Homo sapiens: one gene and its partners. The protein of the gene in region 6 purifies or fractionates together with the protein of the main gene of each other region. This does not show direct contact. Each region holds a gene or a part of one and is shown on either strand. Other genes may lie near its edges. The genes, in order: ADAR, WRNIP1, MAP2K3, ARMC6, NCAPG, FOXA3 and SATB2.

Evidence for each region.
Region 1: the proteins of FOXA3 (region 6) and ADAR purify together in Homo sapiens (affinity purification with mass spectrometry; one large-scale study listed by BioGRID and IntAct). This does not show direct contact.
Region 2: the proteins of FOXA3 (region 6) and WRNIP1 purify together in Homo sapiens (affinity purification with mass spectrometry; one large-scale study listed by BioGRID and IntAct). This does not show direct contact.
Region 3: the proteins of FOXA3 (region 6) and MAP2K3 purify together in Homo sapiens (affinity purification with mass spectrometry; one large-scale study listed by BioGRID and IntAct). This does not show direct contact.
Region 4: the proteins of FOXA3 (region 6) and ARMC6 purify together in Homo sapiens (affinity purification with mass spectrometry; one large-scale study listed by BioGRID and IntAct). This does not show direct contact.
Region 5: the proteins of FOXA3 (region 6) and NCAPG purify together in Homo sapiens (affinity purification with mass spectrometry; one large-scale study listed by BioGRID and IntAct). This does not show direct contact.
Region 7: the proteins of FOXA3 (region 6) and SATB2 purify together in Homo sapiens (affinity purification with mass spectrometry; one large-scale study listed by BioGRID and IntAct). This does not show direct contact.

Annotation. Positions count from the first base shown.
Region 1 is NC_000001.11:154,581,557-154,584,186, forward strand, and holds the end of ADAR (double-stranded RNA-specific adenosine deaminase), read right to left. Parts: 3' UTR 501-2,630; downstream 1-500. UniProt on the Homo sapiens protein: Catalyzes the hydrolytic deamination of adenosine to inosine in double-stranded RNA (dsRNA) referred to as A-to-I RNA editing.
Region 2 is NC_000006.12:2,768,393-2,771,892, reverse strand, and holds part of WRNIP1 (ATPase WRNIP1), read right to left. Parts: intron 3,203-3,500; coding exon 3,011-3,202; intron 1,836-3,010; coding exon of another isoform or gene 1,780-1,835; exon of another isoform or gene 1,774-1,779; coding exon 1,532-1,773; exon of another isoform or gene 1,517-1,531; intron 1-1,516. UniProt on the Homo sapiens protein: Functions as a modulator of initiation or reinitiation events during DNA polymerase delta-mediated DNA synthesis. In the presence of ATP, stimulation of DNA polymerase delta-mediated DNA synthesis is decreased.
Region 3 is NC_000017.11:21,305,211-21,308,710, forward strand, and holds part of MAP2K3 (dual specificity mitogen-activated protein kinase kinase 3), read left to right. Parts: intron 1-3,500. UniProt on the Homo sapiens protein: Dual specificity kinase. Is activated by cytokines and environmental stress in vivo. Catalyzes the concomitant phosphorylation of a threonine and a tyrosine residue in the MAP kinase p38.
Region 4 is NC_000019.10:19,040,103-19,043,602, forward strand, and holds part of ARMC6 (armadillo repeat-containing protein 6), read left to right. Parts: intron 1-2,583; exon of another isoform or gene 2,584-2,608; coding exon 2,609-2,775; intron 2,776-3,500.
Region 5 is NC_000004.12:17,838,479-17,841,978, reverse strand, and holds part of NCAPG (condensin complex subunit 3), read right to left. Parts: intron 2,304-3,500; coding exon 2,142-2,303; intron 1,909-2,141; coding exon 1,770-1,908; intron 1,373-1,769; coding exon 1,286-1,372; intron 793-1,285; exon of another isoform or gene 1-792. UniProt on the Homo sapiens protein: Regulatory subunit of the condensin complex, a complex required for conversion of interphase chromatin into mitotic-like condense chromosomes.
Region 6 is NC_000019.10:45,870,812-45,874,297, reverse strand, and holds the end of FOXA3 (hepatocyte nuclear factor 3-gamma), read right to left. Parts: intron 2,224-3,486; coding exon 1,240-2,223; 3' UTR 501-1,239; downstream 1-500. UniProt on the Homo sapiens protein: Transcription factor that is thought to act as a 'pioneer' factor opening the compacted chromatin for other proteins through interactions with nucleosomal core histones and thereby replacing linker histones at target enhancer and/or promoter sites.
Region 7 is NC_000002.12:199,269,005-199,272,939, reverse strand, and holds the end of SATB2 (DNA-binding protein SATB2), read left to right. Parts: intron 1-267; coding exon 268-729; 3' UTR 730-3,435; downstream 3,436-3,935. UniProt on the Homo sapiens protein: Binds to DNA, at nuclear matrix- or scaffold-associated regions. Thought to recognize the sugar-phosphate structure of double-stranded DNA.

The DNA of each region.
Region 1 (2,630 bases), on a different chromosome or scaffold from region 6:
CAGGAGATTGAGACCATCCTGGCTAACACGGTGAAACCCCATCTCTACTAAAAATACAAAAAAATTAGCCAGGCGTGGTGACAGGCGCCTGTAGTCCCAGCTACTCGGGAGGCTGAGGCAGGAGAATGGCGTGAACCCGGGAGGCGGAGCTTGCAGTGAGCCGAGATCGCGCCACTGCACTCCAGCTTGAGAGACAGAGTGATACTCCATCTCTAAATCAATCAATCAATCAATCAATCAATCAATCAATCGTGGGCTCTGCTGGGGAAGGGCCCTGCTGGGTACGTAATCAAAAGGTGCCTGATGAACCCCACCCCACCCAGACGCAAATTTACCCACAAAGGGAGGTTCTTTGAAATGGCTCCTTTCCAAAGGCTGAGGGACAGCCCTGTCCCCCACAGGTTCATGTCAGATGCCACTGGTGCTGTTATCAGAAACCCCAGGGCCACAGGTCCCTTTGTTCCCATTTTCACCTCCCCCAAGAAACCAGGACTTAAAACTTTCTAAGAATTCAGATTCTTGTTTTTTTTTTATTTATGAGGAATGTATATTGTTAAGTCACTGTTATCAAGGGACACATAAAAGCAGAATCATAAAACTGGACTGCAGCCATCATCACAGTACCCGAGTCTATGCTTGGGGGTCTTCCTCACTCTGCTCTTGGAGTCACAACCAAGACTCCAAAAAACCAACGAAGTCCCTTCAATGTGAGTAAAGGAAACAGCTTCAAGCACTGACAATTTTTACAAGTGATTATTCAAGGAATGCACAGTAGCCACAGTTCAGACAAATCAACTACAAAAATCATTAAAAAGAAGAGTAGGGAGGGTCACTGCTTATTAAAAACAAAAGACTGGACAAAGAAAGTGAAGATAACAGTGGGCAGAAGCTCTGCCTCCTCTGTCCTGTGTGACTCAGAGGGGCATGGGGGCGCAGGGATGTGCGATCTGACACGGCTCGTTTCCAGCAGATGCGTGGAATTCAGGGATGCCTCGCTCTCTTCCTACAACAGAAACTGAATACTACAGGCTTGCTAGATAAGATCTTGGGGGTGAGTGGGGGTTCTGATCTTGTGAGAGCCTGTGTTCCCAGTTAAAGAAGAGGCAGCTGGCCAGAGCTCTGCTGGAGAACCTAATGCCCAAGATGGACCAGAGAGGCCAAACAACCTGAGGACTCAGCAGGTGACAACCCTGTAGCCTGAAGAGGAGAGGGGCTGCGCTGCCTTCTGATGCTGAGAACCACAGACCTCTCTGCCCTGGATGTGGGTGCCAAGACTGATTTACTGTGCCCCCAGCAGACCCAGAGCCAGGGAGCAGGCCTCTTCCACTCCAGGAGACAGGCGCCACTTCCCTACCAGTTCCTTGGGATGCTTTGGTGTTCTGCAAAGGCATCCTTAGTCTATTTTTAGAACTTGCATTTTCTTACTTTGGTCAATTTTTGGTCAAAAGTACAGAGAGCATAGAATAAAAGCAAAGATGTGAATGTCTCTACCAGACAGAGGATGACCTAGTCAGCAGTTTGGAGGGAAATCATCTGAGGGTGCTGGCTCAGCACGTTCCCAGATGAAGGTCTGTCATCTAAAGGAGAGAGGCAGGCTCAGCTCCTGAAGGTCGCAGAGCCTCAGTAGTCCTCCTGAGTGTGTCTAGCTGACTGTTATCGAGGGACACGTAAAAGCAGCATCACAAAACTGGACTGCAGCCATCACCACGGCACCAAGTCTATGCTTGGGCTCTTCCCTGCTCTGCTCTTGGAGTCATGACCAACACTCTAAAAGCCAACAAAGTCCCTTCAACATGAGTAAAGGAAACAGTTTCAAGCACTGACAGTTTTTACGAGTGACTATTCAAAGAATGCACAGGAGCCAGAGAGCCAGACTCCACAGAGAGGCCAAAGGCTCTGAACACACGAGTCAATGTTCATGGAGGTATAGACAAAGGATTCTACCTCACAGAGTTTGAAGACAACCTGCCCTTTCACCCACAACTACTGCTTTCTATGTCAACCCTATAAAGATCAGGTCTGCGCCCTGCCCACGAGCCTACTTCTGAAGCCATCTGGAAAAATGAAAGCACTTGGATAAATGGAAAAGTATGCCTGAATTTTAAATCTGCTCAATTACAGGTTATCTGTAGCAGTTAAGAATCAACATCTATGGCATTCTTTAAAACACTCCTAATTTACATGTGACTTAGTCAACTTCCCTTGGTGTCACTGTCATGAGAGATATTACACCGGGTGGAACAGTGACGTTAAGCCAACAGGATTTTTTGCCCTTATTCTTGCTAAGTCATGATTATCTGAGCAGAGATGATTTTATACCCTCTAGGATTTGTCCCGTTGGCTAGGGTGTACGCCCAGCATTGGCGGGGAAAATATTCCTAGGAATGCTTTAGGAGAAGAGGCAGCTGGAAGCTTGGCAATATTCCAAGGCATGCCCGTGCTCCCTGGGAAGTGGTCTGTGTCATCCTGCCGGGTGAAACCTCTGCTATTGCTTGAGCAGCTCCCTTAACCCAGTCTGGCTGGTTCTAGACTTCCCAGCTGCCGGAGAAAGTGATACACTTCCAGGGAAGCAGCTTTCCTTGCCTTGCCCGCCCTGCAGCTGGCTAAAGTGCAGGATGGGAGGATGGCTG
Region 2 (3,500 bases), on a different chromosome or scaffold from region 6:
AGTACACAGAGCAAAGAACACACAGAAACATGAAACATGTTAGGATTTCCCCCCTTTTCTTTCAATTTGTCTTTACCATGTGGTTCTATGCGTCTGTAATGAGAATTCTGTTACGGGAAACCTACACATGAGTATCCCACATCTGAAGTGCCTGGGACCAGAAGTGGTCTGAATTTCCTATTTTTTTGATTTTAGAATATTTGCATTATATACTTACCAGATGAGCACCCAAAATCCAGAAATCTGAAGTGCTCCAATAAGCATTTCCTTTCACAGCATCATGAAGGTGCTCAAAAAGCTTTAGATTTGGGAGCATTTTGGATTTCAGATTTGGGATACTCAACCTGTACTACATATGAGGAGCTGGCAGCCCCCTTAGGCTCTGACAAATGCCCACCACATAAAGCACTTCTGAGTATGAGTCCATGTGGCTGATACCACAGGTTCCACACACTGCTTGTGGCCACAGATGTAATGGCTATCCCCATCACAACGGTATTCCAAAACAAGGCCACTCTGTCCTACCCAGTGGTCCACGGGCCAAATGTTTCAATGCTTTCATTAGACACAGCAGAATTCTCCCTCCATCTCAGACAGGAGCAAATGGGGCCAGACACATAGGGAGAGCCTGGTGAAACCTAAACCCTGAGCCTAAACTATGCCTTGTACTTTAATCCTCACAGAAAAGTGGCTCCAGAACTTGGCCTCAGGGCAGGCACGAGCAGCTGCAGAGTCCACAGCAGGAGGAGGTGGGCAATAGCCTCTCATCACACCAGATTATGTTCCATGGCAGTATTTCAGCCAACGTATGAACAAATACCATCTGAAGAATATGTTCTAATATTAAAAAAAAGGAAAACCCCTGACCCAAGAAATCAAATTATCTATGATATACACTTGGTGCATTAACGAGCTCATGTGGTACTCATGATGCAGAAATAGGTCACTAAAAGGATAGGGACAGCCTATAATGTCATATTCAGTTAACATTCCTTTACTTTCATGAAACTGAGTTTCAACTACACAAAAAGGATTACATAATTTTAAGGTTACAAGTTAATTTTTACTTGATTTTTTTTTTTTAACAAAATGCTAAACTGCAGGTTAAAAAGAAATTGAAACATGAGTACAATGCTCAAAAGAGTTGTATGGTAAGTCTAGAAAGTATTTATCTATCTATTTGTTCTATTCAATGAGGGACATAAAGCCTTTCAAATCATCAATAAGGCTTCCCATAGAAGCCTAAGCACAAAAGCAAACACCCAAGAACCAAAACAACAAAGCAAAGTTAAAGCTTGAAGAATTATAGAAACACATATTAGAGGCTGGAAAATGCATCTTCAAGTGTGCAGGGATAACTTTGTTAGGTATAATCGAACATTTCCCTCCTCTTTTATTTTCATTACGGGCGGATCAACATTTCTTCTCTGTCCCCACCCTCTCCTCACTGACGCCCGGCCCTTTCTGGCCCCCTGCCAGGAGACTCTCTGGGAGGTGTGTGCCCCCAGGACGCTGCACACTGTCAACTTACTCTGAGCTGCTGTTGCTGCTGTGGCTCAGAGGGTCAGTGGGACGGCTAGAGTCTAGGACGTGGATTCCCAGGGAGTTGATCGCTCGCATTAAAATAGTCACCATTGCCTCTACTGGAAGCTTCTCAAGAACAATCACTCGACAGCGGCTCAGAAGAGCAGCGTTGACCTGGAAGGAAGGGTTTTCAGTGGTTGCCCCAATCAGAGTGATCGTCCCACATTCCACGTGAGGAAGGAAAGTGTCCTAATCATGGGAGGAAAACAGAAAAAAGTGATTCCAGTCAACAGCCACCTGCAGAATCCTATGTAAGTTGGCTATCCCTTCCTTCCTTTTCCTCATTTTTATCTTTCGAGTTCAGGAATAGCAGCAGCCTTATATTCACTGAATATAGATGCAATATTTGGGGGAGTACAACTCTTGCTTTTAAGTCTGAAACACATCTTCTGGAATGCCCGTCCAAGCCTGATCTCTTGCTGGTAGACTAATAGCTTTAAGTAGAATTCTAGCTTAGTTTCAACATAAATGATTTCTTTACTCAGAAAACCATCTTCTACCAAAGGCTGAACTGGCACATAGCTTATATGTAACAGCTATTTATTTATAGACAAGAACACACAAAAACATTAACACTTCCAGAATCTTCTTCCACAGCAAGCACTCAATCATATTATTATTATTCCTATTATGCTGTTTTATGGGGAAAAAATACTAAGATGAGTCAGTGGTCCAATATGAAACCTAGAATGCTAACGCCTCGTCAGAACTTTAAAAGGGTCTTTTTATTCAAAAAGGTTCAAAAAAGGCTCAGTAGAGTTTTGTGAAATATTCTATGTATGATTAAAAAGTTACAAAAAAAAATTTTTTAAAGTTATGCCTAAAAATTTAATTTTTTTTTATTTAGAGTATAGCTCTCAGATCTCAGCCCAATAAAATTTTAATGTTTATTTTTTTTTAAATCCCTAAGTGGCTTTGTTTATAAAAATAGCTTGTGTCCTTTTATTTCAGAAACCCATTTAAATAAACAGTAATCATTAGCTCTTCCAACATTCACCTTGAAGACAGAGCCTGGAGTTACAGAAAATACCGATTGTTTAATTTTCAAAATAAAAATACTGTTAAAGTAATTTTTAAAAACCCATTAAAATAATGACCTTAAAATCATTATTTTACTGTTCACAATGACTCCTAGTATTTAGATTAAAAATTCCTAAAACTGGAAATTTGATTCAAAGGTGCTTTTCTGATACGTATAGCTCAGGGATATGCCAACCATTTCATTTATCAGATAGAGAAAGCATTTTCTTGTTATCAAAAAACACTAAGAAATGTATGGAGAAATAGGCTTGAAGGAGATGGGTTCACAAGCCTACGCTTCTTTGTAAACAAAGCTCGTAAGTCTCTAGCGTTTGTATAGTGATCTCACACACTTTATATTGTTTGATGTTCACAACGACCAAAAGGTAGAAGGAAGTTAATATACCTGCTGAGATTTATTGAACCGATGAATCTCATCAATAAAAAGGATGGTTTTCCTTTTGAAAAAGCTCTTTTCATTTTGAGCTTGTTTTATGACATCTCGCACATCATTTGTCTTGGCATTTGTTGCAGATAATGTCACAAACCTTATGCTATGTTTCTTGCTGTTGCTGGCTATGATGTGAGCCAGAGTGGTCTAGAAAAGATGACATACATGGAGTTTGAAAAGCTGGTAAGACACAGAGAGACCAGCACCCATGGGAACCACCACACGCAGCATCACTATTTACCAAAAGCAACTTGACCTCGGAAGAATGCTGAGCAGCACAGAAACAATCAAAAATACCACAGGACATTTAAAAACAACAACAACAAAAATATTATAAATAAAACAGGAAAGTAGCTAAACCTTAGGCTAATCCTGACCTTTTCTCCTCTGTCCCTAACCACCTTTGATTCCTTTTTGGGTGACTCTTTAAGATCTTTGGAATCCC
Region 3 (3,500 bases), on a different chromosome or scaffold from region 6:
CTCATCAAATAGTTTAGGTTCTGGAAAGAAGTATTGGCTTCAAAATCTGAGAAGAAAATGTGCCATCAGAAATTACCATCTATTTAAGGGAACCTCCTAGGGTCAGGGTCACTCATCGTGAAGTCCTGGGTGCTTTGTGATATGGTGGCCACAGGGCTTTCTCTGGAGTTCTTGGTGCTTGTTGAGAAATCACAGCCAATCCCAAATTACGTAAGTTCCTGGTATGTAAATCATGCAAAAGCAAGATGGTAAAGATCTTTTCAAAAATATTTCATAGCAGAAGGTTTGTTGTCGGTGGCGTCCTGGTACATTGCGGTGGGGTGGTAGAAAGGGTGGGCGGGCTCTCAATCCTGGGCCTGTGGAAGCCAAAGGCATCCCTGGCTTGGGTAGGGTGAGGGCAGATGTGGCAGAAGTCCGAAGTCCAGGTGTAGGGATGGGCCCAGAGCAGTTGCTTCTGGAGTTGCCTGGCAGAACCCCATGCCTTCCGTGTTGGGGCTCAGGTCAAGGTGTGGGTGAGCCCGCTCTGGCTCCCCTGTGGACAGTGGATTGGAGGGATGGGAAGACCACCAGGATGTGTCCCCCAGCCAGGGCTAGGAAGCTGTGCAGGAGACGCGTGGAAGGACGATGCCATCAGCAGGTCGGGCTCAGGCTGGTGGCCTTGGCCAGTTGAGTGGCTTGGGACCAATGGAGTGTCCTGGGCGTCAGCTCCTTCCCTGCCCAGGGAAGCCTGGCCCAGGACATTCCTGCTTGTCCCTAGTCCCTTTGACTGTTTGGTGTTGGGGATGAGGCCGTCAGATAGAATCAGTAAGATGTGGTGAGAAGCGCTGGCGGGGTGTTTTCCAACACCGCAACCCATTCTCGGATTCTCCAGACACCCACCCAGTGCCCTGCAGTTCCGTTCGGTTCTGATGCTACCTGGAGTTCGCACAGACCCCACAGGTTAAGGGCTCTGTCCCACCAGACTGCCCCCAACATCACACACCAGTTGGAAGTAGCGGGTCTCCCATACTACTGGACTGACCAGCTACAAATTGGGGGTCCCCATGACCCTCTCGTAAGGTTTGATAATTTCCTAGAATGGCTCACAAAACTCAGGGAAACACTTTATTTGTGTTTACTGGTTTATCAGAAAGGATATAACTCAGGGCCAACCAGATGGAAGAGACTCACGGGGGAGGGGTGTGAGTGTGGGGTGCAGAGCTGCCGTGCCCTCTCAGGGCCTGGCACCCTCCTGGTACCTCCCTGTGCTTGCGAACCTACAGGCTTCTCAAGCTCATGGAATTTTGTTGTTTTTGACACAGAGTCTCACTTTGTCACCCAGGCTGGAATGCAGTGGCACAATCTTAGCTCACCGTAACCTCTGCCTCCTGGGTTCAAGCGATTCTTGTGCCTCAGCCTCCCGAGTAGCTGGGATTACAGGCACCACCATGCCCAGCTGATTTTTGTATTTTTAGTGGAGATGGGGTTTTGCCATGTTGGCGAGGCTGGTCTTGAACTCCTGACCTCAAGTGATCTGCCCGCCTCAGACTCGCAAAGTGCTGTGATTACAGGCATGAGCCACCACGCCCAGCCTCACATGGAGAGGTTTTTTGTGAGAGAGGGTCTCACTCTGTTGCTCAGGCTGGAGTGCAGTGGTATCATCGCAGCTCACTGCAGCCTTGAACTCCCAGGCTCAAGCCATCCCCCTACCTCAGTCTCCTGAGTAGCTGGAACTACAGGTGTGTGCCCCTATGCCCAGCTACTTTTTTAATGTTTTGTAGAAAAGGGGTCTCACTATGTTGCCCAGGCTGGTCTTGAAATCCTGGGCTCAAGCAATCTGCCTACCTCGGCCTCCCAAAGTGCTGGGATTATAGGCACAAGCTACTGCACCCACTGAAAGTTTTTATAGAGCACAGTCTCCAGGCCCCCCTCCTCTCAGCATCAGTTGGCGGGTGATGCTGAGAGTTCCCACCCTCTATAATCAGCTGGGTTTTCTGGGGAGCAGCCCCATCTGAGGCTGTCTAGGGGCCTTACCCTGAGTCACCTCATTAGCATAAACTCAGGCTCCTTGTGGATAACAAAGCCACTCCTGTCACTCAGGAAATTCCAAGGGTTTTAGGAGCTCCATGCCAGGAACAAAGACCAAATAAATTCCTTTTTATGCCACGGGGGTGGAGAAGACTGGAGCAGGTAGGGGTGGCTCTGGGGACAGGTGGAAGGCCACTGTTGCAGATGCGGAGGCCTCTGCAAGGAGGGCACCCTGCTGACCTGAGGGCAGGGTAGACCAGGGGGTGCAAGTGCAAAGGCCCTGAGGTGGGGCTGTGCCTGCTGTGTGCCTGGGTGGCTGGGTCAGAGGAGAGGGAGGGAGGGTTGGGAGCGAGCGAAGAGAAGTGTCTGGTGGGTAGAGAGTTGACGCAGGTGTTGTGGGTTTTACTGGTGTTGCTGCTACCATTGTTATCATCATCATGTGGTTATAACTTTATTTATTTTTAATTTTTATTTTTTTGAGATGGAGTCTCACTCTGTTGCCCAGGCTGGAGTGCAATGGGACGATCTCGGCTTACTGCAACCTCCGCCTCCTAGGTTCAAGTGATTCTCCTGTCTCAGCCTCCTGAGTAACTGGGATTACAGGCTCGTGCCACCATGCCCGGCTATCTTTTTTTTTTTTTTTTTTTTTTTTTTTTGAGACGGAGTTGCACTCTGTTGCCTAGCCTGGAGTGCAATGGCATGATCTCAGCTCACTGCAACCTCTGCCTCTCGCGTTCAGGCAATTCTCCTGTCTCAGCCTCCCCAGTAGCTGGGATTATAGGCGTGAGCCACCACACCTGGCAAATTTTTGTATTTTTAAAAAAGACGGGGTTTCACCATGTTGGCCAGGCTGGTCTCAAACTCCTGACCTCAGGTGATCTGCCTGCCTCTGCCTCCCAAAGTGCTAGGATTACAGGGGTGAGCCACTGTGCCTGGCCTTTTTTTTTTTTGAGGGAGTCTCACTCTGTCGACCAGGCTAGAATGCAATGGCACAATCTCAGTTCACTGCAACCTCCGCCTCCCAGGTTCAAGCAATTCTCTTGCCTCAGCCTCTCAAGTAGCTAGGATTACAGGCATTTGCCACCATGCCCGGCTAATTTTTGTATTTTTAGTAGAGACGGGGTTTTGCCATGTTGGCCAGGCTGGTCTCAAACTCCTGACCTCAGGTGATCCACCTGCCTCAGCCTCCCAAAGTGTTGGGATTACAGGCGTGAACCACCACGCCCAGCCTTGAGCCACTGCGCCTGGCCTGTGGCTGTAACTTTATAAATAGTGTATCTGTAGACAGTGACTGGGAAAGACTCAAAGTCGAAATAATTTTGTCAGAGAGGTGGGACTGGGCCATACCTTCAATTTTCTTTAATTGGTGACATGTAATTTTTCAATTAAAATTTTTTTTTTTTGAGGTGGAGAGGAATATTCAGGCTGAAGGCAGGTGCTGTATCTGCAATAACAGTTTTCCAAGTCCTAAGTTTGATGCAAAGGACAAGTTC
Region 4 (3,500 bases), about 27 Mb from region 6:
TAGCAGGAAGTGCCCTGAATGCATGATCAGATTCGGGTTTGAGATTTTGGCACGATGACTTCACAGGTGCATTTTGTTCTTGTTCAGGAGGTAGGTGTTGCTGGTTTCTCTTGATGATGTGAGATCAAGCAGTAGACTGAGTTCCTGTCTACCCCTTGTTGGGCTCCCATCAGTTTTACACCTGATGGTTTTGGATCCTGTGGGATCATTATCTGTTTCTCTCCTGTCACAGCTGATCAGCTGGAATCGGAAGCAGAACTTTTCCTCATCCTCTTTTTATAACCTGGGACTCATTTGTACAAGGGAGGCAGGTTAAGTGCTAGGTTTTTTTTAAAAAAATTGTTACTAATTATTGTAGAGACAGTGTCTCGCTACGTTGGCCAGGCTGGTCTTGAACTCCTGGATTCAAGTGATCCTCCCATCTCAGCCTCCTGAGTAGTAGCTGGGAGTACAAGAGCATGCCACCACTCCCTGCCAAGAGCTGGATTCTTGGCCAGTTTTCAGAAGCCTGAGCTGTATTTGTTTTAGTATTATGAAAGCACAGAGTTTGACTTTTTTTTTTTTTTGCAACATCGTCTGACTGTCAGCCAGGCTGGAGTGCAATGGCATGATCTCGGCTCACTGCAACCTCCGCCTCTGTGCTCAAGTGGTTCTCCTACCTCGGTCTCCCTGATTGCTGGGATTACAGACGTGAGCCACCACACCTGGCCCAGATTTTGATTTTGATATGTACTGGATTTTTTTTTAATGCTCACTTGTCTCATCTGTAGCTACCAGGCATCCCTTAGGGTTTGGAAGCTTCCTTGCTTCCTGGTCTCACAAGACCCCAGCGTTACCTGCCCCATGACCTGCTGGGACTTGGAATCAGCCATTCCTCCAGAAGCCCTGGCTCCTTGTTTTTAAAGATTTTATGTAGAGACAGGGCCTCCCCATGTTGTCCAGGCTAGTGTTGAACTCCTGGCCTCAAGCCATCTTCCTGCCTCAGCCTCCCAAAGTGCTGGGATTACAGGAGTGAGCCACCTAGCCCTGGCCCCAGCTCCTTTTCGTGGGAAATGGTAGAAACCATACATGGTGTTAGAGGTATTCAGTGCTCCTGTGCTGTCATTTCTCCTAGGCATTTTTAGTTGCTATGACTAGAAAATTAGATCTTTGTTTACCTAAGAGAAAACACATGATGGGTTTATATGGATATTCCCATTTCATATATAGGAGTTCTGAGATTTTTTTTCTCAACTTTATCGAGGTATAGGATGTACTTTTTTTTGAGACGGAATCTTGCTCTGTTGCCCAGGCTGGTGTGCAGTGGTGCAATCTCGGCTCACTGCAACCTCTGCCTCCTGGGTTCAAATGATTCTCCTGCCTCAGCCTCCCGAGTGGCTGGGATCACAGGTGCCCGCCACCATGCCCGGTTAATTTTTGTATTTTTAGCAGAGATGGGATTTCACCATGCTGGCCAGGCTGGTCTTAAACTCCTGACCTCAGGTCATCCACCTGCCTCGGCCTCCCAAAGTGTTGGGATTACAGGCATGCGCCACTGCACCCAGCGAATTGTATTTAATATAGTGTATATCTTATACTATATATGGTACATAAATGATACAAATATATTGCATATGTTTACATTATACAACTTGACGATTTTATATGCATGCAGATTGTGAAATACTCACCTCAATCAACAGTTACCTTTTTCTTTTTTGTGGTGAGAACACTTAGAATCTACCCTCTTAGCAAATTTCAAGTATACCATACAATATTGTTAATTATAGGGAGTTCCGAGTTTTTAGTTGATAGTACGATGTTAGAATCTTTTTTTTTTCTTTTTGAGTCAGGGGCTTGCTCTGTTGCCCAGGTTGGAGTGCAGTGGCGCAATCTTGGCCTCCCAGGCTCAAGCGATCCTGCTACCTCAGCCTCCTGAGTAGTTGGGACTACAGGCATGTGCCACCACACTCAGCTAATTTTTATTTTTATTTTGGTAGAGACAGACTTTTGCCATGTTGTCCAGGCTGGTCTTGAACTCCTGGGCTCAAGCAATCCTCCTGCCTCAGCTTCCCAAAGTGTTGGGATTATAGGCATTGACCCACTGCGCCCAGCCAGAATCTTTTTTCTTTTATTCTGATTCCTAATAAGATAATCATTATTATTTGCTACATCCGTAATAGTTTCAGAATAACATTACTAGTATCATTATATTAAAGAACCACCTTTCTTAGATAAAATGTAGTAAACTCTGTGTTCTCTCCTACACTTTGTTTTTTTTTCCCAAGACAGGGTCTCACTCTGTGGCCCAGGCTGGAGTGTAGTAGTGTGATCATGGCTCACTGCAGCCTTGACCTCCCAGGCTCAAGTGATCCTCCCACCTCGGCCTCTCAGAGTGCCGGGATTACAGGCTAAGCCATCACACCCGGCCTCTTCTGTATTTGCAGAAGTTCTAGGGAAGTAGGGATATCACCCTTTCCTGTGATAACAGGTGGGAAGAATTTCTCCAGGGTGGTTGTAGGGCTCTGGTCGCTGGTAGATGCTTCCTAAGTGGCGTTTTCAAGGTGGCCAGGCCCTGCCATTGCCTGCTCACCCTTGAGGTAGCTCTCTCTTTGCCCTAACCTCTCAGCTCAGGAGCATCTATCGGCTGCACGCCAACATCAACACAGGCGAAGATGGTCTCCAAGCGCATTGCCCAGGAGACCTTTGATGCAGCTGTGCGCGAGAACATCGAGGAGTTTGCGATGGGGCCAGAGGAGGCAGTGAAAGAGGCCGTGGAGCAGTTTGAATCGCAAGGTAGGGTGGTGTGACTGTCACCTACCATCCTTGGCTCTTAGATGCAAGAGCAGTGGGAGAGCCCTGCTGCCCCGCCCCACTGGGGGTGCCACATGCCTGGCATAGAAACCAGGTGCCATTGGGCCCTGTCCCCTCCAGCTTCTGCCCGAGGCAGGCTGGTTATCCTGCTCCCACCTCTCACCTGCTTCCACCTCGCCCAGATATTTGTGGGCTGGATCCTTCTCATGAGTCTCATTTGATCACTTCCTTGAAGAGACTTTCCCTGACCCTGGCCTGGGAAACAGGGCCCCTGCCTCCCTGCCCTACTCTACCCTACCTCGAGCTTACAGAGGCAGAAGCAGCCTGTGGAAACAGGTGGCATGTTCAGACCAGGTGCAGATGAGTGTGGTTATGAGGGGCTGTTTGCAATGGTGTGGGTGGGGTTAGGAGACCACCCCTAGCACAACTAGCTCCGGCAGAGACCCTGACTGCAGGGAGCAGGAGTCCTGGGCAGGGGCCACATGATGGGTGCTGGGCCCTGGGGCAGAGGCAGGGGGCTGGGAATGAACACCCCACACTCCCCTCCTCCTGCCCCCATCTCAAGTTCACTTCCCCATTGAACAAACCCAGGGTACAGCCTGAGAGGTCAGAGGTCAGCCTCCTAGGCACAGAGTGGGGTATAGAACACTAGACAGGGGCCAGTGGGACAAGCAAAAGCGTCCAGCACTGTAGGGGCTCCCTGTGGG
Region 5 (3,500 bases), on a different chromosome or scaffold from region 6:
GCTATAGCACAAAGTCTGTGGAGACTCATGAAAATTAAGGGTTAGAAAGGTAGGTTAGGTGCATAAACAGGTGCTAAAGAAACAACTTTTTTTTTTCTTGGAAGGTGATAAAACATAGTAAGGTAATAATGGCTTCTTGTAAAATAACATACATGACCAATTCAAATGTGTTCTAAAATATATTTCAATGTAAAAACTAGAACCTTTATATACTGGGGATTATAAGATTCTACTTACTAGAAATTTACAAGGTTAAGGAGTAAGACAAAGTTTGGCTTGTGATGTTTCTCATTTATAAGGAATAAAACAATATGAATATATGAAGTTTGGTCTATTAAAAAGGATGGTGTTCTCATGGTGTGATATACCACAAAAAAAATCTGATCAAAACCAAACTGTTCAATGTGACAGTCTGAAAATTATATACTCTACTTCATTCATGTTACACTTTTTTCTACTCCTTACCTGCTTTTACTAATGCATTTATCCCCAAGAAAACATCCAACAATATGGGACTAATTTGGAACAATATCCAGCAATTGGTATTTAAATAATTTACTGGTTACAAAACAATATTATGACCAGACTCCATTTTAGAAAAAATTAAATCTGCATCGAAAAGGGCCTTAAAAAATAGATTTCTAAAATCAAAATCATGGTTGGCTCATGGGTGGGATTATTAGTGTTCCTTATAGTAGTTTGTCTGGATGTACTTTCTGATTCTTCTGTAATAAGCATGCATTGCTTTTGTAATGAGGAAATAATAAAACAATAAAAAGATCTTGAATTTCAGATTTTTTTCCAAGTGACCCCCTAATAGTCAGCATTTACTTTGCCAACAGATCCCCTATTGTTGGATAGCCCTTGGGAAATAAGTTGGGAAAATATGAAATAAGATGGGAATAGAAGGAAAACAAAGCCCAGAAAAATACTACAGGGATTTTTTAAAAATGCTTAGTTACAGGAAGGATAGAACACAAATAACTAATATAAAACCATCATTTAACCAAATCTTAATTTAACCCAAATTGTCTTTTGTAATATCTTTTGCATCATACTTCTTTCAATCTAAAGCACCAAGAGCAACACTGATTTTATAATCTTTAGACACAAGGCAAAAACTGACATCCACAGAAAGAATTAAAAAGAAAGGATACCAAAGACATTTTAAAAAAAATCTTTATCCCTAAGGAAACAAAGATAAGAAAACTTGCAAAACAAGTATTTTTCATTGGAAGATAAAATTTAAAACTTTTATCATAAAGATGGTCAATCCACACACTACCTCTGTTAGTCTTTAGCTGAGTAGACTTTGATGCTTGGGTTGCTTTTACACCCCTGAGTGGAGTCATATATACTTCTTTATTCTTTTCTATTAAAGGGAATAATACAACAATATAAATAAGATAACCTCATGAAATATTTTAAATTGTCTTTTTAAGACCAGTTTTTATAAAACTGAAATGACAAAGTCCTTCTAGCAGCTAGTGAAAAGTTATAAATCACCCTTTCGAAAATTTGAATATTGGAAAAAGAAGCAAAACTCTTAAAAAGATGGTCATATGTTGAGAAATGCATGCCAAAAAACACTTGAAAAGCAGAATAAACATTTATCAGTAATGCTCTTTCCCAAGAGGATTAATTAGAAAAAAAATTTCATTCATTTCTGATGTCCAACCAAACATGTTAGAGTAGAAAAAAATATGTCTCAGTAAAGATGGAAAAAAAAAAACAGAACCTTATAAATATTCTGTTCAGTATGTGATTACCATCTTCATTTTGGAAAGTAGTTGTAGTCAAGGTGGCATCCTGTGCTGCTTCAGCTTGGTCACCAAATTCTTTATTTCCTTTTTCTAACTGAATCTTGATTTTCTCCAAAGCTCTCAGACATGTCCTATCTTTTACTTGCTATAAAAGAAAACATTATTAACATTTTGTAAACACCGCATTCCCTAATCTTTGAAAATAGTACCAATACATATCAAGTTGTTTAAAAACACTAAATTATATGAAATTTATGAAGAAAATACTTCAAATAAGTCACAATATGCTAACATATGTATAATCTAATACAACCATGTAAATTCTACATGTATAAATATAAACACAAACTAATTTAGAGTAATGAGAAACTACTTTACCTCCAGAATCTCATTCAATAGAACCAGAAGATCTTTTGCAAGATGGCTACTGAGTTCTAAAGAACTCAAGGCTTTTGTATAGACTCGAATTTCTGGCGAGCACGGACTTGTTAAGATCTCATTGCAAATTTTCATAGCCAAATTGTCATGTACTGTTAAGGCCTAAAAAATTAAGAGAAAATTCTCTGTAAATTGAAGATGATTATGATTATTATATAGTCTTACACATCTAACAAATATTTCCAACTAATTTTCTTGCCATAATCCCAAATATAAAATGTCTAAAACCAAATTTAACATCCTCCCTACCCCCAAAATAAGCTCCCCTTCTTGACTTCTTGTTGTGGATGTTGTGATATAGGGCCCAGTTCCACTCCCTTTAGGAAAGATGCACTCATCCCCCAGTTGCTGCATGTTTTGGAGGGTAAAAGTTCCCAGCTGCAGTACTGATCCAGGCTGACAATGGTGGACTTTGGTGGACCTTGTCCAAGATCATACCTCTTCTCCCAAAGATTTGTCCAAATCCAATGACTGGCCCGTGCACAAGTACAGTGTTTCAGCTTGTCTCCATTCTGGACAACTCAAAGGAACATCCCAGTTCCGGAACTCCCTATGGGATTGGCTGGGGCCTTTGTTTGCATAGCAGTAGTTGAACTTAGGGCTATGCCCCAATCTACTTTTCCCTTACTCTTCCAAGACACTGATCATGAGAGTACTCCCCAATTAAACTATGTCAACAGCTCCTTTGAAGTCTGCTGTTACACATACTTAGAGTTTTCCTGGACTCCTCCATCTCCCTTGCCTCTCAAGCTCTTTCTTTTAGATTCTTGTACCCATAATTCTTTATTAGGTCAATTTCTATTCTTTCTACTATTACTTTCTAGTACTTTTTCTACAAGCGAATTATACAGATTTTCAGCTGCTTTCTTTATTAATATTCTTTTCTTTCTGCTCACCAATTCATCTCATATAACCACCACTGACCACCAAATTAATCTTTCCAATAAGTGGTTTTCATGACATTAACCCTTTCATCATAAGCCCTGCATAATTATCCATTGCACATAAGGCCAACTCCAAATTCCCTACATTGGCCTTTAAAGCAATCTATAATCTACCCCCAGTGTTGTGCCCTAACAGTCCTATTCAGGATCCTTAGCCAAAGTCATCTTTCTACAGTTCCCCAATATTTGCATAACCATCTACATATATCACCTTTACTAAAACATCCTTCCTCTACCCAAACCACTCCCCAAATACCAACAAGGCCTAACTGAATTTTGGTCAATGAGTTTTAAAACTAATGCTGTACTCATCATTCCTACCACATGACTCTTGCCCTTGTCTCAAGTCATGAAG
Region 6 (3,486 bases):
CGGTAGACCATGAGGACCCCAATAGGCATAGTGCTATCCTATGACACACAGAGGACACACACACACACACACACACACACACACACACGCAGATAAACTCCAACATGTGCACGATCTCCAGTCATTGAATTGACACCTCATCTGTCCTTTTTCCTCCTCCCCAGCTTAGCCAAAGATTATTCGGCCATTAGGCTTGCAGAGCCTCAGAGGTAGAGGTCTGTGTGTATGTCTGAGAAGTGGGGGTGGGGAGATGGCCTTGGTCACTGCAGAGCCACCTCCCCCTGCTGCTCTGGCCCCACTGCTGCGGGGGCTGCTATCTGTGAGCAAACTGTCCTTGGGGTCAGGGACAGCAAAGAGCCAAAGGTCAGGTCGATGCCTCCCCCAACTCCTCCCCCAGAGGCAGCCAGCTCTTAGGGGCAGGAAGCAGAAGGGACAGAGGAGCAGAAATTCAGGTGTTCAAGCCCCACAGGGCCCACTGGCCAAGGAAAAGAGACATTCAGTAAGAGGCGGACACGGTACCTTTAATGATTAAACACAGCCAGTACCCCGCTTCCCGGGAAAGAATCAGACTTCAGTAGAAATTCCCCACACCCTAACCAGCCTTTTCTGGTTTCTCCTGGACCAGAGTTGGGGGAAAGGGTGGGCTTCAGAGAAAACCAAGGAGTATTCTCACCTCCATCCCCTACCCAACCCATGCCAGAGAGAATGGTGACGACATGGCCAACACGGGGCTGCAGCAGCCATCATGGCACATGGTGGCCCACTGACGTTGTCACCTACCCAGTATGATGTCCATCAAAGCACCCAATGGGCCAAAAAAGGTGTTACACAGAATGGTGGCCAACTTGGCACCTACTGTGCCAAGTACACCAAAAAAGAAGTGGGCACAGCACCTAATGGGGGGGGCCAAAGAAGATGTCACTGAAATGCTATCACCATCACACCCAAAGGGCCAACCGAGATGGTGGCCATCAAACCATGCAGTGGATTAGCCAATAACATCCATCAATGTAGCAGTCCTCACAGTACCCAGTGGGCCACCAAAATGTATCCATGGTGGTTATCACAGTACCCCGTGGATCAACACCATGCCCACTGAGACAGCAGTCATCACAGTAAGTAATAGACCCACCCAGATGTTAACCAATGGGACAAGTGAAGTGTCACCAGAAGGATCAGGCCCCAAGAGCTTCGTGGTGTGAGCTCCAGCCATACCCACCACCATGTTCCCAACCCCTGCTAGGATGCATTAAGCAAAGAGCGGGAATAGAGGCCCTGGTAGTAGACTCCAGGCTCCCCACCTTCAGCCCCGTAGCCCCCAAACCCCACGTCCAGTTTGGGAGGTGCTGGTGTCTGTTCTGACATTAGGTTGTTGATGGAGAAAGGGTGGTTGAAGTTGTAGGGCGCGTCCAGCTTCAGCTCCCCTGGGAGCTCCAGGCCAGTGAAATAGGGTGTGGAGGAAGCGGGTGAGCCACAGTCCAGAGCCCCCACATCTTCCCCGCCCTGGGCCTCAGGCTCAGGGGCTGGAGGCGGGGGCTGGGGCGGGGAGGTGACTGTGGCCGCGGGGGTGGTGGTCGAGGCAGCAGACCCTGTCCCGTTCCTGGTGGTGGTGGCAGCCCCGCTGCCCCCTTTTTTCACCTTCTCCTCCAGCTTGAAGCGTTTCTGGCGGCGCAGGTAGCAGCCATTCTCAAACATGTTCCCTGAGCTGGGGTGTAGGGCCCAGTAGGAGCCCTTGCCAGGCTTGTCTGGGGAACGCGCCACCTTGACGAAGCAGTCGTTGAAAGACAGCGAGTGGCGAATGGAGTTCTGCCAGCGCTGCTGATTCTCCCGGTAGTAAGGGAAGAGGTCCATGATCCACTGGTAGATTTCACTCAAGGTCAGCATCTTGCCCGGCGCCTGCTGGATGGCCATGGTGATGAGTGAGATATAGGAATACGGTGGCTTGGCGTGTGCCAGGGGCCGCCGATACCCCTTCGGCATCTCCTTCCCGTGCACCAGCCCAGGACCCGGGGCCCCGTACCCGGAGCTGCTGCTGCCACCGCTGACACCCAGGCCTGGGAAAGTGGGCCCCAGGGGGGCTGCAGGTGCTGGGGGTGCCAGGGGTCCTGAGGGCAGTGGGGAGGCAGGGAGCCCCCCAGGGGGATAGGGAGAGCTTAGAGGATTCAGGGTCATGTAGGAGTTGAGGGGGGCCATGGTGGGCACTGGGGTCACCGGCGAGTAGACCTAGGGGAAAGATGAAAGGAGGGGTCAGTGGGGCTCCACTCTGCTGGTCAGCAAAGGATCCCAGGACCCACTGAGTGTCCGTCTGTCTGTCCATCTTGCCTTCTCTACAAATCCCTTCCATCATTACCTCTATCTGTAGAAAGCAGTCTCTCAAGGTCTCTCCTCACTCCCTGGACACGCCCTTTCTGCCCCCTGCTTTCCCACCCACCATGCTCCCATACACTCAACATCATCCTTTAAGTGATTCTCCAGGGTTCGGGACTCCCAGGGCAGTCTCTGAAACCCTTTGAGGATGTCCACGAAGTCAAAACTATTTTCAAAATAATGCTATTTTTTTTTTCGAGGCAGAGTCTTGCTCTGTCGCCCAGGCTGGAGTGCAGTGGCGTGATCTCACCTCAATGCAACCTCCGCCTCCTGGGCTCAACCAATTCTCCTGCATCAGCCTCCAGAGCAGCTGGGATTACAGGTGTGTGCCACCACGCCAGCTTTTTTTTTTTTTTTTTTGTATTTTTAGTAGAGACAGGGTTTCTCCATGTTGGCCGGGCTGGTCTTGAACTCCTGACCTCGTGATCTGCCCGCCTCGGCCTCCCAAAGTGCTGAGATTACAGGCATGAGCCACCACACCCGCAATCCTAAGTTATTATTAGCCCTTTTCACTCTCTTTCTCATGAAGTGTACAGTGGAGTTTTCCAGGGGGTGTTGATATTCCAACAGAGAGAATGAAGAAGCAACCAGGAGAATCCAGCTGTCTTCCACTGGGCCAGACTTGATTTGCAAAAATGGAAAAAAACAGTGTCGCTCTTTTGACTAAATTTTTTGAAATTTGGTTTTTTTAATAAAAATCTTTTACACTAACAAATGATTGCTATTTTTAAATGAATACATGTTTGTAATATTTCTCAGTTTTAATTGTAAATACTGTAAACGTAGATAGACATAACCCACATCAACAGAAACTGTTTGGACTCCTAAATAATTTTTTTTTTCTACAGGGTCTCACTCTGTCACTCAGGCTGAAGTGCAGTGGTGCAATCGCAGCTCACTGTAGCCTCAAACTCTGGGGCTCAAGTGATCCTCCTGCCTCAGCCTCCCAAGTAGCTGGGATTATAGGCATGCACCGCACACCCAGCTAATTTTTTTGTATTTTTAGTAGAGACGGGGATTCACCATGTTGCCCAGGCTGTTTTCAAACTCCTGGCCTCGAGTAATCCTCCTGCCTCAGCCTCCCAAAGTAATCCCAGAACTTTGGGAGCCAAGGAGGGT
Region 7 (3,935 bases), on a different chromosome or scaffold from region 6:
AAAGTGAGATGACCTTAGGCAATAAATGACTTGACTTTGCATCTCAGAATATAAATGATGGCAAATACTACTGTTATGAACCTCCTGTTTTGTAGGTGAGATACTAAATGTCCAGAAATGCTTTTAAGCTTTCCAAAGACCTGACTTTACAAATGACTATAGCTTACCTCCAGTGCTAGATAGATAACACATATTTCAGAGGGCTGATGGTTTTGGAAAGGTAAAATCATGAGTCCAGTGTTCATTTTTTTCTCTCTTAATTATCAGGTACTTCATAGACAGCAGTCTCAGCCAGCCAAGGAGAGTTCCCCTCCCAGAGAAGAAGCGCCTCCCCCACCTCCTCCGACTGAAGACAGTTGTGCCAAAAAGCCCCGGTCTCGCACAAAGATCTCCTTAGAAGCCCTGGGGATCCTCCAAAGCTTTATTCATGATGTAGGCCTGTACCCAGACCAGGAAGCCATCCACACTCTTTCGGCTCAGCTGGATCTCCCCAAACACACCATCATCAAGTTCTTCCAGAACCAGCGGTACCACGTGAAGCACCACGGGAAGCTGAAAGAGCACCTGGGCTCCGCGGTGGACGTGGCTGAATATAAGGACGAGGAGCTGCTGACCGAGTCAGAGGAGAACGACAGCGAGGAAGGCTCCGAGGAGATGTACAAAGTGGAGGCTGAGGAGGAAAATGCTGACAAAAGCAAGGCAGCACCTGCCGAAATTGACCAGAGATAATGTGAACTTCTACTAGGCAAAGCAATACATCGGTCCAAGGATTTTCTGCTTTCATTTCTTTAAAAGTTTTTTGTTAGTTTGTTTTTTGTTTTTGTTTTTGGGTTTTTTTGGCTTTATTTTTGTCTTTTTATGTCTGTTTTGTTTTTCTTACCCTTTTGGACATTTCTTTGTTGCACAGGATACACCTATAGACTGAATAAGTTCAGTATTTCCGAATCAGACATCGCCTTGGCAAAGACACTAAAGCGTTACACTTTATCCCGTCTCTATGACTGGATCATAGTCATTATAATCACAGGAGACTCTGCCTTCATTATCCTTGCACTTAACGGAAGTTACATCAGGCAAGTACCAGGATGAAAAGAACTATGAAATAAATGAAGGAAGCTACAAGTGTGTGTGTATATGTATATGTATATATCTCTATATTTACATATATATATTAAAATTGCATGGGACAGAGACTTTGCAATCCGAAAGAATAGACTGTGAAATGAGTTCTTAAAGAAAAGACTTGTTTATGTATTAAAAAAACCACTTCACAGTGAGTCGCTTTGGCTTTTTGATAAACTGCGGCCTGCTCTCAGGGTGGGGTGACTATTTTTGAATTCCTATTTATTTTTTGTGTTTGTCCCTGATTTTTTTTTTTTAATTCTATGGCTTCCTATCTGGCAGCTTAATGGGTAATTTTTGAGGTATGTATTTAACAAAATAAACGACACTGCCGAAAAAAAAAAAAGTGAAGTGAAAACAATCAGGGCACATTAAAATGATACAAGTCAAATAAATCTTAAAGACACAATGCACACTTAAAATGACTCAATAAAATGACTTGCTACGTTCCGTTATTCAATTTGTCATTACTGTAGTGAACAGATGCATTTCTGTGGAATTCCAAATAAGTAAAACTGAAATTCAGTGCAGAGAAAACTTTGTCCACTAGTGCAAGTCTTGATCAAATGACATTTTGACATTGGACATATGGAATTCATAGTATGAGCCACATTTTGTTGTGAAATTTATTTACCTGCTTGTGGCTTCAAATCTGAAAATTAATAAGCCTGCTCGTTTAAAAGTTGTTTGTTGTTGCTGTTTTTTTGTCTTTTTGTTTTTTACTAGAAAATAGTTCAGTGTAATATTAAGTTAGAAAAGAAGTTGCTGCCCAGTTAAAGGGGCTCCCTCTCAAATAAATCTCCATCCTTCCCTCTCCCAAAAGACATTTCTGATTTCTGCTTCACTTTGGGCTTCCTCTTCTTCGTACACATTCCATCTACCTAATCAAACATTTTCAGTCCCTGATCTCTCCTGTCCCTTTTCCTGGGATGACAGCCCTAACAAGAACTGTTTTTGAATCGTTGTGCAGCTCCAGGCAATAGAGTATGTGAAGCGATTTCAGTAGAATCACTTACTCATCCTAAAAGAAAACATTATCCCAGTTACCTACATCGCAATTACCTTATGTAAAGCAGAACTAATGCTGACTGGATGTTTAATGGGATGAGCATTAAAGCTGCAATCTACTATAGTACTCCAGATCTCTTTCGGCTTCCTATGAGAAACACCAGAAGCATTACTTTCCACTTCTACTTACAGTAATTGCAAGAGGAGACCTCACATTCAGGACTGGCCTAGTGAACGTAATCCATGCTTTAAACTGGCCATTAAACAGTCCCACATGGTTGGATTTTTTTTTTTTTTTTGAGTTGTGCTTTCACAAAACCTTGTCAAAGACCTCATGCAATATCACTTTGAAAGTTATTTTCTGTTTACTACACAAACATTGTAATATAACTGTTAATACTATTTATATATTTGAAAGGTATAAAAGGTAGGAGTTAAAAAAAAAACCTCTATGTGTAGATATTAACTCAGAACTTACAATATACAGGGAGAAGACATGTTGCAATACAAGCTAATTCTAGCTGCTCAGTAACCTCTGGAGTTTTTAAAGGGACATTTTCCTGTACTTTTTCAAATAATGATGTTTAAAAATTATCTTGACATAAGCGTCATATACCTTTGCAAAAGGATGGTTGTTTGCAGTTAGCCCTGGCCCCATCCTTCCTATTTCTGTAGTATGCTGCAGCTTTAATCAGAAAGTCCATGGTTGCTGCTTCCTGATCTCCGAGTTACTCTTTCCAAATTGTCTTCTTACACTGTTGCTGAAGGTCACTCTGTACACGTAATGGAAACTGATTTTGCCAAGCTCTTACAAGGTGGTTCATCTATCGATGGCATCCGCATTTGGTATCTTTTACACTTCAACCAAAAATTTATTAGGTATTTTTCAATGCTAAGTCTTGCCTTTTATTTTTTAATTTCACTGCCAAGTTTGCAGTGGTTCTAAGTGAATCTGTGGGCATTTTAGCCTGTGGTCTTGCCAGATCTTTGCGAATTACAATGCATATATGTCTATTTATTCAATATCTGTCATATAATATCTATTTGGAAGAAGAAACTTTCTCTTGTAGTGCCTCTTGACAAAGCACAATTTCCCGCCTTTTTTTTTTTTTGTGAAATGAAAAAAACAAATTGTGTTTTATTGCGGTATCAACAATGTGAATAAGGATTAACATATTGTAAATGTTCTTTTTTCCATGTAAATCAACTATCTTTGTTATCACTAAGTGATAATTAATTTTTAACTTATGTGCATTGTTAGGCTGTTAGAATTTTTTGGTTGTTAAAATAAACGCATTCAATAAATATGACTTTGTTTGTCAGTTATTTTACTGGGCATTATCTGCTTTCCCACTTAATTTTTCATGCAGAGAGAGACCTGGTGAGTCTTAGGAAAATTTGTACCCTTATTTTAGAAACAAGACAGTGGTACCTGCAATTACAGATATATGAGTCCTGTACAGTGCATGGATTTAATAGCACATGTGAATGTATGTGTGTCTCTGTGTGTATATAAACACATGCATGCTCACTTCCTTTATCCAATCTTTTGTCATATACAAACAAAACTCAAATGTATAAAGATATATTTATAGGCTGCTGTTTTATTTTTCTAGTGAATATTTTCTGTTTATAATTAAAAAACCACAAATGACTGCGTGTCAGGAAACTTTTGGAGCACATATGTCCATGGTTAATGGACATAATAAAAGTCTTTTATATTTAGAGCTGGGGTACCATAATGTGTGCATGGAGGAATGCTGAAAGGATTGATGTATCTGAGAAATGTGTGAAAATGATTTTTT